Linked DNA regions of Homo sapiens. The protein of the gene in region 1 purifies or fractionates together with the protein of each later gene. This does not show direct contact. Each region holds a gene or a part of one and is shown in the gene's direction. Other genes may lie near its edges.

What was found.
Region 2: the proteins of RAET1E (region 1) and MFAP3 purify together in Homo sapiens (affinity purification with mass spectrometry; 2 studies listed by BioGRID and IntAct, with this or other methods). This does not show direct contact.
Region 3: the proteins of RAET1E (region 1) and PODXL2 purify together in Homo sapiens (affinity purification with mass spectrometry; 2 studies listed by BioGRID and IntAct, with this or other methods). This does not show direct contact.

The regions. Positions count from the first base shown.
Region 1 is NC_000006.12:149,882,633-149,885,506, reverse strand, and holds the end of RAET1E (retinoic acid early transcript 1E isoform 1 precursor), read left to right. Parts: 3' UTR 1-1,002; coding exon of another isoform or gene 1,003-1,019; 3' UTR 1,020-2,328; downstream 2,329-2,874. UniProt on the Homo sapiens protein: Binds and activates the KLRK1/NKG2D receptor, mediating natural killer cell cytotoxicity.
Region 2 is NC_000005.10:154,037,425-154,041,180, forward strand, and holds the start of MFAP3 (microfibril-associated glycoprotein 3 isoform 1 precursor), read left to right. Parts: upstream 1-1,542; 5' UTR 1,543-1,587; exon of another isoform or gene 1,588-1,884; intron 1,885-3,756. UniProt on the Homo sapiens protein: Component of the elastin-associated microfibrils.
Region 3 is NC_000003.12:127,639,088-127,642,743, forward strand, and holds part of PODXL2 (podocalyxin-like protein 2 precursor), read left to right. Parts: intron 1-157; coding exon 158-436; intron 437-3,656. UniProt on the Homo sapiens protein: Acts as a ligand for vascular selectins. Mediates rapid rolling of leukocytes over vascular surfaces through high affinity divalent cation-dependent interactions with E-, P- and L-selectins.

The DNA.
Region 1 (2,874 bases):
GAGAAATGAGGTTGCTAAGTCTCCCCAAGACCCCTGCCAAATCTCACCATAGACATAAGATGAGGTGAATTTCATTTATCGCCTGGGCATTCACGACCTGAGAGGCTTAGCTCTGGGTCAAGTTGAGCCCTCTCTGTCCCTGGCCAACAGGAGAAAGGCAAAGGCTGAATGAGTCTCGGGGACTGTCTCTGCTTTGCAAGTGGGCCCTGAGGTGAACAGGGACCTTTCCAAATTAATGCATCCACAGCGGTTTGGCAAAGTCGGGCTTTAAACCAGGGTCACTCTCCAGGGGTTGCCTATGTGATGGGTGGTCTGATGGACAGAAACACAGAGGGTGGGCAAGACACAATTTTGGGTGGGGCAGCAGCTTGATGATCTGACCATCTGACCATGGGAAAGTATATCACATGCCAAAGGTTGAGGGGTCTCTAGGTTTAATTCCTAGGAGGACATAATGAAGAAGGCTGCCTGGGCTCCAACAAAGCAGGCTGGAGGCAGGGCCACACAGACCGTGGGAGAGGGGATTGTGAGCAGAAGGGAAGGCTGAAAGTGAACCCTAGACACTCTGTGAGGACAGCAAGGACTAGAAGGTGGGATTCCTTTGACACCTGGGTTTCTGGTTCACCCCTGACACAGGAATCCTGGCAAATGGCGTCGTGCCAAGCCCCACCCTCAGTGCTCTGGACCTGCCGCAGGGATACCCTTGCCCACAGCTGGAAGACTCTTGCCCCCGCTGTGGGCCTTCCCACTGTGTTCCCACTGATACTTTGCCTTCCTTGGCTCTGAACCCCTAAAATCTCTGCTGGGGTCTGGGTCTAACTAATGATGAAGTAACGGAAAGTGAACAATCATAAACTAGATGACAGAGAGGCAGAATGTGAACAATAGCGGCTGATCTCTCCCTGAGAGAGAGGTGGGATCTGAGTCCTGAGAGATCACGGAGGGGTCAATCCTGAGCTGATCTGACCCAGGGTTCTGCACTCTTTTGTCTCCTTCCTAAAGGCAGAAGATCCACCTAGAGGTGATACCACGGCGGCGCAGAGTTGTTCACCTGTGGTCCTCGATCGCTGACAGCCTTGGCTCCCACTGCTGTGTGTTCCCTGAGTCAAGTGGAGGCGGAGCCTGCAATGAGCGGAGATCGCGCCTCTGCATTCCAGTCTTGGCAACAGAGCAAGACTCCGTCTCAAAAAAAAAAAATTTTTTTTCAGTACATATTTTTTAAAAGATAGGGCTGGGCACAGCAGCTCACATCTATAATCCCAACACTTTGGGAGGCCTAGGCAGGAGGATCACTTGAGCCCAGGAATCTGAAGCTGCAGTGAGCCTTTGCTCGTGAGATTGTGGACCTATGATCCTACCACCAGCCCACCTGGTTCTAACACCCCCTCCTCTATGTGTGAGAGGGAGAGAAGAAAAGTGAGGGAGAAAAGAGAGATAAGCAAAGAACAGAGAGGAAAAATGGAAAATAAGAGGAAATTGGGGGAATTAAACAGAGGGGAGGGCATGGATCCCCGGGAGTTAGAAGAGTAGCAGCTTGTGGATTACTACGCAGTGGAGGAAGAAGAGTTGTTGGAAATTATTTGAGAGGTAGTATAATCATTTGTGAGGCAGTTTTCTGCATTCACCATTTCTCACAGACTAAGTTACTCATAAGCAAACGTGCAATTCACATTACACTGAAATTCTTCCCTAATACATCATTTGCATTGGAATAAAGTACGGTTTTCAAACAACCTGATATAGCAGAACTGACTGTATAAATTATGTGAGCACAGTGCAAGTAATTCTTTGTTTGTTTGTTTGTTTTTTTGAGACAGAGTCTCACTCTATCTCCCAGGCTGGAGTGTAGTGGTGCGATCCCGGCTCACTGCAACCTCGATCTCCCAGGCTCAAGCGATTCCCCTGCCTCAGCCTCCTGAGTAGCTGGGATTACAGGCATGAGCCACCACGCCCGGCTAATTTTTGTATTTTTAGTAGAGACGGGGTTTCACCCTGTTGGCCAGGCTGGTCTCGAACTACGGACCTCAGGTGATCTGCCCCCCTCAGCCTCTCAAAGTGCTGGGATTATAGCATGAGCCACTGAGCCCAGACACAAGTAGTTCTTTCTGATAAACACTTTAACACTGAATGCAAAAAAAAAAAAAAAATTGTGTGTGTACTTTTTTTAATTTTACTTTAAAATAGACACACCAAACATGTTTCTAAATAAATGTAATATGGAAATCTTTCTTTTTCTCCTCCATTCTCAGTGATGATATGGTTGTAAATTCTTATCATCTGATAATTTTTATCAGATCTTTACAAATTATAAACTTATTTGCAACTCTGTTTTCAGACTATCCCTTCTATTATGATCATGAAACTGAATTAAATAGGTAGCTATTTTTTTGACTTTTACTCCTTTATTTTTATTTTCATAGTTTTACAAGAATATAATATATGTAATCTGTCTTCCATTTTAAACCTAAAGTCTTCCTAATCTCTTCTTCATAGTTTCAACAAACATAAAGGTAACAATTCAAAGCACCTGTCGCTTCGACAAGAAGATATTTTACATATTTAAAAAAACAGATAACAATTTTAAAATACTTGCTATAAGAATAAAATTGTATTTAATAAGTAGAACTAAAATTTTGACTGATGTTGCAATAGATTTGGTGGGGGCTTTTTTTGTGGGTCTTTTTTTTTTTGAGTCAGGGTCTTGCTCTGTTGTCCAGGCTGGAGTACAGAGGTGTGAACGCAGCCCACTACAGCCTTGAACTCCTAAGCTGAAACGATCCTCCTGCTTCAGCCTCCCATACTGCTGGGACCACAGGCATGAGCCATCCCACCCAGCTAATTTTCAGATTTTTTTTATAGATATGGGCGTTTCAC
Region 2 (3,756 bases), on another chromosome or scaffold:
ACCTACTACGTACCAAGTAGTACCACAGTACCTGTGGAGATAGAGAACTAATGTAAGCCATTCACTCCAAGGGCCTATCTAATAGGAAAGACGAGACAGTTTTTGCACAAAGTTCAATTAATGTTTTGTGTATATGAATAAATGTTTCCTATCTTTTCCTTATGCTCTCTCCAGGTTGCAACGCATCATTATCATCATCATAAATATATACAGTATACTATATGTAGAATATATAATATACATATTACATAAATTCATATAATTCCATGAAAGACTGGAAGGACATACTCCAAAATATATTTTTAAAGACAGGGTCTCGCTATGTTGGCCAGGTTGGTCTTGAACCCTAGGCCTGGCCTCAAGCAATCTTCCCCTGCCTCAGCCTCCCAAAGTGCTAAAATTACAGGCGTGAGCCACCATGCCCTGCCAAAACAGTCCCTTTACTAAAATATTAAACACTGGTTATCTCTATTCTTTCATTTGTGCCAGATATTTGAGCTAAGCCAGAAGAGAATTTTTTATGGTGATGGTTGTTTATATTATCATTACTATCGTTATTAGAATGACTGTACCATCTCTTTCCTCAACTCATTCATAATCTAGGAGAAAGGTTAAAAAAAAAAAAGGAATAAACACCAAGTACGTGGAACTGCACTATTTAGTGTTTTTGTAAGTCTTCCAGGCATTGTGTAGTAAGCGTGTAGAAATAATTGTAGTTTCTCCTCCAGTTATTTTCTCAGTTGGAGGAGAAAGATTCCAATAACTGTAAATAAATACGGCTGAGCCATATTTTTAAGAAATAAAAACGCATACGCTTACACACACACATATATATTACGTATATATACACTCCACCCGCCCCATTTACCAAAATGAAGAGCAGTACAGCTTAGTAGCTAAGAGCACGGGCTCTGGAGTTTACTTTCTTCCTGTCCTGCAGCGATTGTGGGGAAGTCAGGTCACCTGTCTGCCTCTCCGTTTCCTCATCTGTCAAATGGAGTTCTGGGTCCCTATAAAGATTCAGTGACGCGATATGTGAGGGGCTTGGAACAGTGACCGGCACGTAACCGCCCACAGGTTAACAGCTGCTATCACTTGGTGGGGTGATGGTTTGTATCCTATCGTTATTAATACGGCTGTCTCTAGATGAGCAAACATGCGCTCTCACTTCTTCCCACATTCAAGAATGGGGTCCCAAACGAGAGATTCGACGTAAACGTCCGCTCCCAACTAAGTTCTCAGGCGCTGACAACGACAAGAATTCCTCACACAAACGTAGCGCTTCAATCACTAAACCGCTTTCACAGCCCTCGACCCTGCCGCGAGATGTCCGCCGCCCACCGTCAGGTCACCGCCTCCCTAACGACTTCGGCTGCCCGGGCCCTGCCCCTGAACCTCGCACCCCTCCTGCCTCGTTCAGGAAGCTCCGCACCTATCCGGCCGCCACCCTCAGCACAGCCACGGCAGCCGACTCGGCGTTCCTACTGCCCCGGAAGTGCTCCTTCAGCGCAGAGGCGTGCCGGTGTGTCCGAGAAAACTTCCGAGTTAAGCCGCCGCTGAGGCCGGAAGGAGCTAGACGGCGGTCGGGTAGGTGACGGCTTGGTTGGGGTCGCTGCGAGGGGACTACTAGGAGCGCCGAGGCGTGAGTCGTAGCCTGTGGCTTGGGGTCGGGAGTGCAGGAGGCGAAAATGTTTGCCATTCTTTTGAAAGTCTGGCCTGGGTGTGGGAGTTCGGTCATCGAACACTTACTGAGAGCCAGATACCTGCCAGGCACTGCCCTGGGCTCCAGGGACACATCAGTCAACGAACGGAAGGGCCCTGCTCTCAAGCAGTGCGAAAAGCAGATTATAAACAAGTCAACAAACGGGATTATCTAAGGTGGTAGTAAGTGCTGTAAAGAAATTTAGACTGGATAATGTGATGGAACGAAGTGGGAGAGTAATAAGCCGTATGAAAATCTGGAATAGAGCATTCCAGGCAGAGAGAATAGCGCGTGCAAAGGCCATATAGTGGGAACAAACTTAGCAAAGTCAAGGAAAAGACAAAGGCCACTGGCTAGAGCAAAAGGAGCAAGGTGAGAATGGAGAGAGATGAGGCCAGGGACTTGAGCCCAAATCTTGTAAGGCTTATGAGCAAGGATAAAGAGTTTGATTTTTGTTTGGAATCCAGTGGAAAACCATTGAAGGTTTCTAAGCAGATGAATGACATGATCTGATTTATGACTCTAAGATTACTCCTGGGACCTCATCAGAAAGATGCAACTCTTCTGTTGCCCTCGAGCAGTGAAAATGCATGAAATCCAGACTGACAGAGCTAGTAAAATATTAAAATCAATCTTATTGTACAGATAAGAAAAACTGAATCCCAGAGAGGTGAAGGGACTTAGCCTTTAAGAACTCATGTTTTCCAACTCCATTTAATGCCCTCGGAATTATCATCTTAATTCCCAGATAAGAGTAATTGTCACTTCTAAAACTCTTCAGATATTTTCCTTTGCTTTTGACAGTGGTTCTCTAAATTTAGGTTCATCAATATCACCTGGAAGCTTGTTAAAATTCCAAAAAACAACAACAAAAAAACCCCTGCTTAAATATAAAATGGATCATTTCCTCTGATTTTCTGTTGTAATGGAAAATGCATAGAATTTGGGGCTAAAGTATGGAATCTTGGGAAGCCACTTATTTTTTAAATGCTGCTGATAATTATAGCAGCAGTTCTCAAACTTTTTGATCTTAGAATTTCTTTATACTTTTAAAATGTATTGAGAACTTCAAAGGGTTTTTGTTTATAATAGCTATCAATATTTACTATTTTAGAAAACAACTTTCAACAAAGGTTATTCATTTTAAAATAAACTCATTATATGTTAACATAGATAGCATTTCTGTAAAGGATATTTTCCAAAATGAAAAATTATTGAGAATGGCATTGTTTTACATTGTTACAAATCTCTTTAATGTCTGGCTGAATAAAAGACAGCTAGATTTTCGTAACTTCTACCTTCATTCTCTTACAATATCAATCATCATGTAACTTTTAGAAAATTGTGCCATATTGTGTGAGAATGTGAGTGAAAAAGGGATATGTCCTAATATTATGTAAATTGTTTTGAAACAGTGTCAGGGACACCCAGGAGTTCCTGCACCACACTTTTGAGAATTACACTGAATTACGGTGATTGTCATGCCAGTAAAAGAAATATGAGTTTGATTTGTAAATCAATAAACCTATATGCACATTAAAAATGCAGATGCCCAGGCATCCCCTAGAGATCCCAATTCAATAAGTCTGTGGGGTCAAGAAATCTGCATCTTTAACAAGCACCACAAATTAATTTGATATAAATGGTCTGAAAATTACAGAGTGAGAAAACCAGTCAAATGATTCTCTAGAGTGTTCTGCCTACTAAAACTCAAGATAGGTGTCTTTCTTATCTTCACCTCTCTCCATCAATAGTTTCCAGAGCCTGAAGCTCTGGAAAGTTAATAAGTTTGTAGCAGACACCTTTCACACTACCAAGTCGATGAGTGTCTGAACTCAAAATTTTGAGCACTTGCCACAGGCAGTGGCCCTGTGCTAAGGACAGAAGGTTTTTAGACTCTATCATTCATAAGCTTACAGTCTTTTGAACGGATAACTAACTGCTAAGAGGAAAACTGATAAGTCTTATAATGGCGTACTCTTAATGTGCTAGGGGACTGACAGAGCAAAAAAAAAAAAAACTCATCTGACAAGAGGGTGGGCATGAGAGGGTTT
Region 3 (3,656 bases), on another chromosome or scaffold:
TGTCTCAGAATCCCCGCAAAGCCTCTGGGTTTTCAGGAGTGTCCACTGAAGTCCCCCCTTCCCCAGGACCTTTGTCATTTGAGACATGCTCTAACCTGGCACCAGTCTTGTGTCTTCTCTAGCCTCCCCTGACTGTCTGGCTTTTATGTCTGCACAGGAGCGTTCCTGGGTGCCTGTGTGGCTGGGTCTGATGAGCCTGGCCCAGAGGGCCTCACCTCCACCTCCCTGCTAGACCTCCTGCTGCCCACTGGCTTGGAGCCACTGGACTCAGAGGAGCCTAGTGAGACCATGGGCCTGGGAGCTGGGCTGGGAGCCCCTGGCTCAGGCTTCCCCAGCGAAGAGAATGAAGAGTCTCGGATTCTGCAGCCACCACAGTACTTCTGGGAAGAGGAGGAAGAGCTGAATGACTCAAGTCTGGACCTGGGACCCACTGCAGGTAGCTCTTCTTACCTACAGAGCATGTGTTGAGTGCCAGCCAAGTGTCTAGGCAAAACACCAGGTGACCATTTCCTTGCCAGAAGCATCTCTTCTCTCTCCCTACAGTTTTTACCATGCTGCTGCTGTTTACCTGCACATCAGAGCAAAGGCTCTGGGACCCTGAATGTCTCACAGGCCCAGGAGGCCCTTTCTCTTTAATACTAACCACTGTTTAGGGAGCCTTTATTCTGTGCTCATTTAATTCAATCTGATGCTTATAACCTGAGAGATAAGTAATATGACCCCCCTTGTAGACAAGAAAACACTGAGACTGAGAGGTTAAAAGCTGGCCTGAGGTCAAACAGCAGCTCAGATGCTCAGTCATGATTCAGACCTATGGCTTTCCAAGCCCTGGGGCTCATTGTTTTGTTTTTCCCTACTGCTCTATGCTGTCTCTGTTGAAGATTGCCACAAGGTCAGCTGATCCATGTTTCCTTGAGTCTATCCGACCAGCAATTGAGGCATTCTAACCGCCCTTCCCTCAGTCATGCACCAGAGCTAGAGCTGGTGTTTGGATCTACAGAGCCCAGCTGGTGAACATTTGGGTCCCGAAGAAAGCCCGAGGCCTAGGGCTCCAGGTTTGAATGCCCACCGCCATGAGCTGACATTGATACAGATGCAGGCATGGCCCCTCCACCAATGTCCTGGGCCAGCAGGGCCCCATCTCTTAGTAGGGACTGAGGAATTGGTGTGATTGTGTGTGCACATGGGGCAAGGTGTTACAGAACTTAACCTTTAATTTTTCTTTTTAAAATAGGTAATATTTATTGGATTTACCTTTTCTAATTATAAAAGAACACATGAACATTGTAGAAAATCTGAAACACACAAAAATAATACAAAGAAGAAAATAAGGCTGGGTGTGGTGGCTCACGTCTGTAATCCCAGCACTTTGGGAGGCTGAGGCGGGTGGATCACTTGGGGTCAGGAGTTTGAGAACAGCCTGGCCAACATGGTGAAACCCTGTCTCCACTAAAAATACAAAAATTAGCTGGACATGATTGCGGGCATCTGTAATCCCATCTACTCAGGAGGCTGAGGCAGGAGAATGGCTTGAACCCGGGAGGTGGAGGTTGCAGTGAGCTGAGATCGCACCACTGCTCTCCAGCCTGGGCGACAAGAACAAAACTCTATCTCAAAAAAAAATAAAATAAAATAAAAAATAAAAACTACCTATAACCTGATAATTGAAAGATAATTACTATTAGTAGTTTGGGGATACATTGTTCTAGTCACTTTATGTGCAAAATTGGAATCATAGGGACATTTTGTTTTCACTCAAAATATTTCATAAGTATATTTCCGCATTGTTAAATATCCATTTATAACCTGATTTTTAAACATGTTATTATTTATTTATTTTTTTGAGATGGAGTCTTGCTCTGTCACCTGGGCTAGAGTGCAGTGGCGTGACCTTGGCTCACTGTAACCTTCATTTCCTGAGTTCAAGTGATTCTCCTGCCTCAGCCTCCGAGTAGCTGGGATTACAGGCATGCGCCATCACACCCAGCTAATTTTTGTATTTTTAGTAAAGACAGGGTTTCACCATGTTGGCCAGGCTGGTCTCTAACTCCTGACCTCAAGTGATCTGCCCGTCTCGGCCTCCCAAAGTGCTGGGATTACAGGTCTGAGCCACCGCACCCGGACAACATGTTATTATTTATTTATTTATGTTTAGAGTTGAGGTTTTGCTCCATTGTTCAGGTGTGATCATAGTTCACTGTAACCTCGAACTCCTGGGCTCAAGCGATCCTCCCACCTCAGCCTCGTAGGTAGCAGGGACCAAAAATGTGCCACCATGCCTGACTAATTTTTTCATTTTTTTGTAGTGATGGGGTCTTGCTATGTTGCCCAGGCTGGTCTTGAACTCCTGGGCTCAAGCGATCCTCCTCCCTTGGCCTCCCAAAGTGCTAAGATTATAGCTGTGAACCACTGTGCCTGGCTTATAACTTGATTTTTTTTTCTTGAGACGGAGTTTTGCTCTTGTTGCCCAGGCTGGAGTGCAGTGGTGCCATCTTGGCTCACCACAACCTCCGCCTCCCAGGTTCAAGCGGTTGTCCTGCCTCAGCCTCCTGAGTAGCTGGGATCATAGGCATGTGCCACCATGCCCGAATAATTTTGTATTTTTTTTAGTAGAGACAGGGTTTCTCCATGTTGGTCAGGCTAGTCTCGAACTCCTGACCTCAGGTGATGTGCCCACCTCGGCCTCCCAAAGTGCTGGGATTACAGGCATGAGCCACCGTGCCCAGCCCTGATTTTTAACAACTACGTTATATTTCATCATGTGGGTCATCAGGTGTATTAAACTGGTTCCCTACTGTTGAATACTTAGGTTGTCTTCAGTTTTAATTCTGCTACAAATATCCTTACACATTTTCGCACCTTCCTGGTGGTTTCCTTAGGATAAATTTCTAGAATAAAATTGATAGGTCAAAAGATGTATTAGGGCCGGGCACGTGGCTCACGCCTGTGATTCCGGCACTTTGGGAGTTCGAGGTGGGCAGATCATGAGGTCCGGAGTTCGAGACCAGCCTGGCCAACATGGTGTAACTCCGTCTCTACTAAAAATACAAAAATTAGCCAGGTGTGGTGGCGGACGCCTGTGAACCTAGCTACTCAGGAGGCTGAGGCAGGAGAGTTGCTTGAACCTGGGAGGTGGAGGTTGCAGTGAGCTGAGATTGCACCACTGCACTCCAGCCTGGGGGACAGAGCGAGACTCCATCTCAGAAAAAAAAAAAAAAAAAGATGTATCAGTCAGCATCCCACGCGGAAACAGAAGACACAATCAAATTAAAACAATCTAAGGAGAGTTTGTTTATGAAGCAGCAGATTTATGAAGGTATGGGCTGGATACAGGTGAACTACCAAAGGACTCACAAGTCCTTTGGCTAAGGATCTGTGGCTAGCAACAGCTGAGTGCTTACCATCTCTAGGCACAGTGAGACCAGGGAAGGGATGAAGATGGGAGCCTGCAGGGAAAGTGGTGTAGAGAGGTGGCCAGATATGGGAGGAGACGAAGAGAATGAACGCCGCACCCCCCACCAAGTGTTCTCTCTTTCCCTTGTCAGTTTGATAGGAAAAATTATAATGGCCTTTGATTACTAGTATATTTTAACTCATATATGTACAAAACATATGTGTACGTTCATTATATACAGAATATGTGTATTCTATAGAAT